Homo sapiens: one gene and its partner. The protein of the gene in region 1 purifies or fractionates together with the protein of each later gene. This does not show direct contact. Each region holds a gene or a part of one and is shown in the gene's direction. Other genes may lie near its edges. The genes, in order: KRT84 and KATNIP.

Region 1 (2,987 bases):
CAGCCCCTGGGGGAATGTTGGCATTGTAATAGGGAAATGAGCAAAAGTTGCTGAGCTTCACTTCTACCCAGCGACCTTACCATCTGTGGGAAGTGGCTGCCTCTTTGCACCCATCTCCAGACACAGGTGGGAAGGTGAAACAGTGCCCAGGCGATGAGTATTTATCCTTCTCTGTTTTATACAGGATGTGGATGCAGCTTTCATGAACAAGTCTGATCTCGAGGCCAACGTGGATACCCTAACTCAGGAAATTGACTTTCTAAAAACGCTTTACATGGAGGTGAGGGTTCATCTTCTCTAGGGCACCCAAGGAGATCAATGCTTGGCCTGGACTCCCTGAATGCTTAGCCTGGGCTAGCATATTTTCAAACATTTGCTATCATATATCTTTCCTCTCACTCAAATCTGTATGCTATATATGCCAATATGTCTTCAAATGGGGAAGGGAAGGTGAGCAGGCTTTTCAGCAGCCTGATGCAAGTCAAACTCCTTGGATCTATGATCCAACTCCTTATTTACCAATTTAAAGACTGGGATCTAGAAATGTCACTTCCTGTGTACTGACAAGAAGACTGAAAAATTGATTTGCCAGGAGAGGTAAGAAAAAATGTGTTTGACCTAATTAGCCAAACCAGCTGTCTTTTGCTTCATAAACAATCTGTCCAGTCTGGTATAGGCCCAGCCAGAGCTGAATTGCTAGCTCTAAGTGAAGAGGCTGAGGAAAGCCTCCTCTGGAACTCTCTTTGCAGGCCAGTCCCAAGCCCCTCAGTTCTTCTATTAAGGGCTTGGGATATAGGAATTCCTAGACCACCATGTGCTAAAATATTGTCAGGTCTCAACGGTCTGTGACCAGCCCAGCCACTTTGTAGATAATCTAAGAAAAGTTTAAGCCCTAGAGTGGCTCCCACTTTCTTCCACCATGTTCTTAGATCCCCATGGTTTTAATACTTACTGAGCAAAGTAGTGTGTTAAAGGGATGTTTCTGAGTAGATCACAAGAGCTCTAAAGTCAGCCTGAGATGGTTCTCAGACATGTCTTTTTCTTTATCATCAATTTAGATGGTCTTGCTTTTTTATGAACCAATGAGTGATGCTCTCTGCCCCTGGCACCACTTCCTGGGCCCCCTGTGGCAGAGTCCCAGCTACTAAATGAGACTCTAAGCACATCTGTCTCCCCAATCCTCCAACACAGGAAATCCAGTTGCTGCAGTCGCACATCTCAGAGACGTCGGTCATTGTGAAGATGGACAACAGCCGTGACCTGAACCTTGATGGGATCATTGCTGAGGTCAAGGCCCAGTATGAGGAGGTGGCCAGGCGCAGCCGGGCTGATGCTGAGGCCTGGTACCAGACCAAGGTGGGCAGTGGAGGCTGGGGAAGGGATGTAGGCAGCTCTGGGAATGACTCATATATAACAGATCAGGCCCAGGGAGGTTTGAAGCCCCCAACTCAGTGGGGGCTGTGATCCTGACCTGACCTCCGAACCCTCAAAATACCCTCCTCTCTCCGCAGTATGAAGAGATGCAGGTGACAGCTGGCCAACACTGTGACAACCTGCGCAACATACGGAACGAGATCAACGAACTGACCCGCCTGATCCAGAGGCTTAAGGCAGAGATTGAGCACGCCAAGGCTCAGGTGGGCAAAGGAAAGGAGGGAAAGCCTCAGATGAGGGAGAACCAGGGCCTCAGGCTTTGGGAACCCCCAAGTCTAATGAGGTGAGGGAGACCATCAAGACCCAGAAACCAAGGAATGGAGGGATCAGTCCAGGAAGGCTTTCTGGAGGATAAAAATATGGAAGGGAAGGAGAGCTTCCCACATAGAAGTAAAGGGCTAGAGCAGACCCAGCAGGGAAGGTGGTACAGAAAGAATAAATTTACCCTCTAGATGCCATGACTCTGGGGCAGCTGAAATCAGCAGTGACAAAGTCAGTGGGGATGGAAACAACAGCAATGCCCTACCCCATAGTGACATCAAACTACAGGGTCTCCAGTGCCTGGGAAAGCAGCCACCATGGGGTCCATCCCTGCCTTGGCCCCAGGCTATGTTCCCACTAAGAGGGGCCGTGTTTCTAACCCAACCTGGGGATGCCCTGGCACTGCCGAAGCCTACCTGCAAACTGCCTTCCCTGCAGCGTGCCAAGTTGGAGGCTGCAGTGGCCGAGGCCGAGCAGCAGGGCGAGGCGACCCTCAGTGATGCCAAATGCAAGCTGGCAGATCTGGAGTGTGCCCTGCAGCAGGCCAAGCAGGACATGGCGCGGCAGCTGTGCGAGTACCAGGAGCTGATGAATGCCAAGCTGGGCCTGGACATCGAGATCGCCACCTACAGGCGCCTGCTGGAGGGCGAGGAGAGCCGGTGAGTACTCTCAGTCCAGCAGGAGAGTGAAGTCAGACTTAGGCATCTAGAAAGACTAAGGAAGAGAAGGGGACAGTGAAGAACTGCAGAAATACATAGTCTTTAAAGATGACAATACCTTCTCTGCAAACATTAGTTGCATTGCCCTTGTCAGGGAATCAGAAGAAGGCTCTAGACCTGTGATTCTCAAATGCAAGTCTAGATAAGCTGCACCAGAATCATTAGTAATTTTGCTAAAATTACTACTAATGATAAATTTCCTTAAATATTTTAATCTAATGGTTTTGGGATAGGGTCTAAGAACGTGTTTTTCAACGCTCCCCAGATGTGTGTATAACCAGGGGTGAGAACTACTGCTCCACAGATCTACTCAAACAAGAAAGCCCTTTTTATGGCAAATAGGTTTTCAGGAAACAATAGTGCATGTGAAATGATTTGTTTCTTCCCCTTTCCAGGCTCTGTGAAGGTGTTGGACCAGTAAACATATGTAAGAAACTTGTTTTTTCCTCTTCACACATTTCTCTCCTCTTCAAACTTCCTTTAAACTCAGGCTCACACTGGGGTCAGGAGGCGTCCGACATGGCCGGTCTGGCCACGACAGTCAGGGGAGCTGGGACCATCCAGCCCTGGATG
Region 2 (4,363 bases), on another chromosome or scaffold:
AATCACAGCACTTTGGGAGGCCGAGAGGTGCGGATTGTCTGAGGTCAGGAGTTCGCGACCAGCCTGGCCAACATGATGACACCCCATACCTACTAAAAATGCAAAAATTAGCCGGGCGTGGTGGAACATGCCTGTAATCCCAGTTACTCAGGAGGCTGAGGCACGAGAATCGCTTGAACCTGGGAGGCGGACGGAGGTTGCAGTGAGCCAAGATCGCGCCACTGCACTCCAGCCTGGGCCACAGAGAGAGACTCTATCTCAAAAAAGAAAAAAAAGAACAGCACCTCACCCATGAAGTCCCTGATAAATGTCAGCTTTTAGCATTATCGCTAATTGTCCTGATACGCAGATCTCGAGTTGCCCTAGGCTATCTGCACCGAATGAATATACCATGAGGGTCTGTTGATCTCAGGAGTCTCCAGTCTGGCTCTAAAGTGTCTTTCCTGCTCTAATCCTATCCTCCAATGTAAAGGAAACATTCTTTTAAGCCTGAAGAATATCCCCAATCCTGTTCGCCATTACCCCAAAACACACACAGGGACAAAACGGGACATCACTAGATTCTCCCCCTCCCCCCGCCAACTCCATCGGACTCCAGGGCCCTGCCAGGCCTGAGGGACCCCAGATTAGCCTTACCGCCGTGCCCCAACTCAATCAACAGGCCTCCGGTACTTGCACAGCCCCACTCCATTCCCCCGCCCTGCCCCCAGCTCCATCAGCCCCCGGGCCCTGCGCCCGCCCGCCCGCCCGCCAGGCCAGGCCGCCCGCTGACCGGTCCTGGAGCTGTAGGTCGGGTCGCTCCCGAGGCTCCTCATAGAAGCTGATGCCCGGGTGCGTGGCGAGGGCCCGCCAGAGAAACTCCTGCGTGCAGGGTTCCAAAGGCAGCGGGAAGGGCGGCACTCGCGTCTCCAGCCGGCTCCACAGCGCTGGCAGACACAGGCCATCGAGCCCCTCCAGAGCGACTTCGTCCAACAACGACTCCAGCGCGTCCATTGCTACTTCAGTCGGCGGCGCCCGGGGCGCATGCGCAACGCACCGCCAAGGGCCTTGGTCCATCGCGCCTGCGCACAACGATCCGGGGCCCGGGGAGGTGGGTCAGACCCAGGGTTCGGAGGAGGAGTTCCAGCGCGCCGGCATGACGTCACTCCCCGGGGGCGGGCTCAGTAAGTGGAGCTCCACCGTCATTGGTCCGGGGCCCCGCAGTAACCAGGGGAACTGCAAACAGTGTAGAGGCCGCTTCCGGTTCGAGCTCCCGGAACCGCCGCCTCTAGGGATGGACGGTGAGTGTCTGTGGGCCCCTCCGGGAGGTCGGGCTGTTATTCTCCCATCCCTCCCGACCGCGCTTTGGGCAGAATCCTAGGCCATGAACCCCTGGACCACCACTTCCTGACCCAAGGGGGTCTCCGAAATGAGGGATAGGGAGGCTTAGTGGTCTGGAACGCGGAGGAGAGCCTGGGGGAGTGGTCAGTGCTGTGACCATTCTGCTCGGCTGTGGTCGTGAAGGAAACCGGTACTGGCCGGGAGCTCAGTGAAGGGATGTAGGGTGGGGAAGGAGAAGTAGAGGTCTGAGGAGGGTCTTGTGAATGTTGGGATGTGGAACTGTCGGATTTGGGAGTTGATATGAAAACAAGCTTGATCGTGGGAGTGCAATCGTCAGGTGCTGGGAAAGGGAATTGGTGTGGGGGGTGAAGGGAGTTTAGGAAATACTCCCTTTCTGTGCCTTGGCGTTAATAATAATAGCTCCCTTTAACAAAGTGCTTTCCAGTACCAAGAACTCTGTAAGTACTCTTGGGCAACACCTCGCTAAGCTTCATACCAGCCTTTTGAGTTCAGCGTTGTTCCATTTTACAGATGATGAAACTGAGGCTCAGAGGTGTTAAGGAACTTGCCCAAAGTCAAACAACCAGCATGTAGCAGAGTGAGTGAGAAACCCAGACACCCTGTCTCTGGAGCTGAATTATGGAGCTTGAGATTTGGACCGGTTTTGAGGGTCCCTTTATTCCAGAGGTTGTAAATGCAGATGTCTGCAGAGGAGAGTCTAGTGAGCCGGATTGAGGCTGTAACTGAAAATCAATTCCTCACCTGAAAGGAAAGCTGCTCACCAAGCACCAGCTGATTGTCCTCTTGGGGTACTTCTCAAAAACAGGGTTGGCCAGTCACTCTGAAGGCCAGAGACAGCTTGTGGGCCCCCATTTAGGGATCCCTGATTAGAGTCATGGTATTGACAATTGGAAGCAAATGGAAAATAGGCTATTCTGATATCTCACTTTGCAGATGGGAAGACTAAAGTCTAGAGAGACTGGTAGGGTCTGGGCTAGAGTCCAGATCATTTTTCTAATTACAGCACTGTCCCTCACTTCTCGGGAATTTGTTCCTGGGGAATCCACATTCTTTTTATATTCACTGAATGTAGTGTGGAGAAAATGTTTTTAATTGAACATTCTGTCATATGCTTAAAATATATCTTTTCCCTTTGTACTTTAGAGGTACTATAAAATGTGCTTTACCATTTTGCCTTCTGGAAAGGTCAATGTAATGTTGCTATAGAACATCAGTCCTCAAACCTTTTAAGCCTTGGGACCCCTGTATGCTCTTACCTCAAAGAGCTTTGTTTATTTATATTTATGATATTTACCATATCGAAGATTTAAACTGGGAAAATCTTAAGATGTCCATTAATTAGTTCCTTTAAAAATAATAAAAATTGGGCCGGGCATGGACTCGTGCCTGTAATCCTAGCACTCTGGAAGGCCAAGGCAGGTGGATCACTTGAGGTCAGGAGTTCGAGACCAGCCTGGCCAACATGGTGAAACCTTGTCTCTACTAAAACTTAGCCGGACGTGGTGACACATGTCTGTAATCCCAGCTACTTGGAAGGCTGAGGCAGGAGAATCATTTGAAGCCGAGATCTTGCCACTGCACTCCAGCCTGGGCAACAGGGCGAGACTCTGTCTCAAAAAAACCCAATAATAATAATAATAATTGGCCAGGTGCAGTGGCTCATAATAATCATAATAATAATTGGCCATGTGCAGTGCCTCACACCTGTGATCCCAGCAGTTTGGGAGGCTGAAGTGGGTGGATTGCTTGAGCTCAGGAGTTCAAGACCAGCCTGGGCAACATAGCTAGACCCTGTCTCAAAAAAACTCCAACAACAATAAACCCATTACTTCTGAACATAAATAATATTTTTAATGGAAAACAATTACATTTGCCTCCAAAAAATTAATAGGAAGAGTAGCATTATTTTATGTTTTTTCAAGTTTATTCAATAGAAATAGAAAAAACTACTCTCATTTCTGCTTCAGGATTCAAACTGTTTTTTGTTATGCTGTTTTGGCTGGTGTGTATGAAGAAAATTTGGCCTCATACAAATATATAATTGGAGCAGAGAGAAACATTTTAATTGCCTTTTCAGATAACTGTAGACACTCTCCTTTCATACTATACAAAATTTAGCAAATGCCAGTTTCTTTTTTCTTTTTTTTTTTTTTTTTGAGAAAAAGTCTCACTGTCGCCCAGGCTGGAGTGCAGTGGCACGATCTCAGCTCACTGCAACCTCTGCCTGCTGGGTTCAAGCGATTCTCCTGCCTCAACCTCCCGAGTAGCTGGGATCACAGGTGTGAACCACCATGCCCAGCTAATTTTTTTTATTTTTAGTAGACATGGGGTTTCCCCATGTTGGCCAGCTGGTCGCAAACTCCTGACCTCAGGTGATCAGCCTGCCTCCATTTCCCAAAGTGCTGGGATTACAGACGTGAGCCACCATGCCTGGCCTGCAAGTGGCAGTTTTTTTTTTTTTTTTTTTTTTTTGAGACGGGAGTTTTGCCGTCGTTGCCCAGGCTGGAGTGCAATGGCCTGATCTCGGCTCACCGCAACCTCCGCCTCCCGGGTTCAAGCGATTCTCCTGCCTCAGCCTCCCAAGTAGCTGGGATTACAGGCATGTGCCACCACGCTCAGCTAATTTTGTACTTTTAGTAGAGATGGGGTTTCTCTATGTTGGTCAGGCTGGTCTCAAACTGCCAACCTCAGGTGATCCGCCCGCCTTGGCCTCCCAAAGTGCTGGGATTACAGGCATGAAGAACCATGCCAGGCCACAAGTGGCAGTTTCTTAAATGTTAGTCACAGTGTGTCATCTGAAGCCTTATAGGTGAACTTTTATACTGTGTTACATTAAAATCCATTGGTCTATCTTGCCCTTTCATTGGCTGCTTTACCCATATATGGTTTTATAACATCAGCCATTGGTCGTTTAGAAAATGTTGGTTCAGTGAGTTATGCAAATCTAAACGTTGACCTTTCAGATGCCATTATACGGTATTTAAAAAATCACATTTGTTAATATCACCACCTATTTCATTTT

What was found.
Region 2: the proteins of KRT84 (region 1) and KATNIP purify together in Homo sapiens (tandem affinity purification; one large-scale study listed by IntAct). This does not show direct contact.

What each region holds. Positions count from the first base shown.
Region 1 is NC_000012.12:52,379,730-52,382,716, reverse strand, and holds part of KRT84 (keratin, type II cuticular Hb4), read left to right. Parts: intron 1-184; coding exon 185-280; intron 281-1,191; coding exon 1,192-1,356; intron 1,357-1,511; coding exon 1,512-1,637; intron 1,638-2,133; coding exon 2,134-2,354; intron 2,355-2,809; coding exon 2,810-2,841; intron 2,842-2,987.
Region 2 is NC_000016.10:27,548,898-27,553,260, forward strand, and holds the start of KATNIP (katanin-interacting protein), read left to right. Parts: upstream 1-1,246; 5' UTR 1,247-1,273; coding exon 1,274-1,280; intron 1,281-4,363. Other genes in the region: GTF3C1 (general transcription factor 3C polypeptide 1), read right to left, coding at 773-993. UniProt on the Homo sapiens protein: May influence the stability of microtubules (MT), possibly through interaction with the MT-severing katanin complex.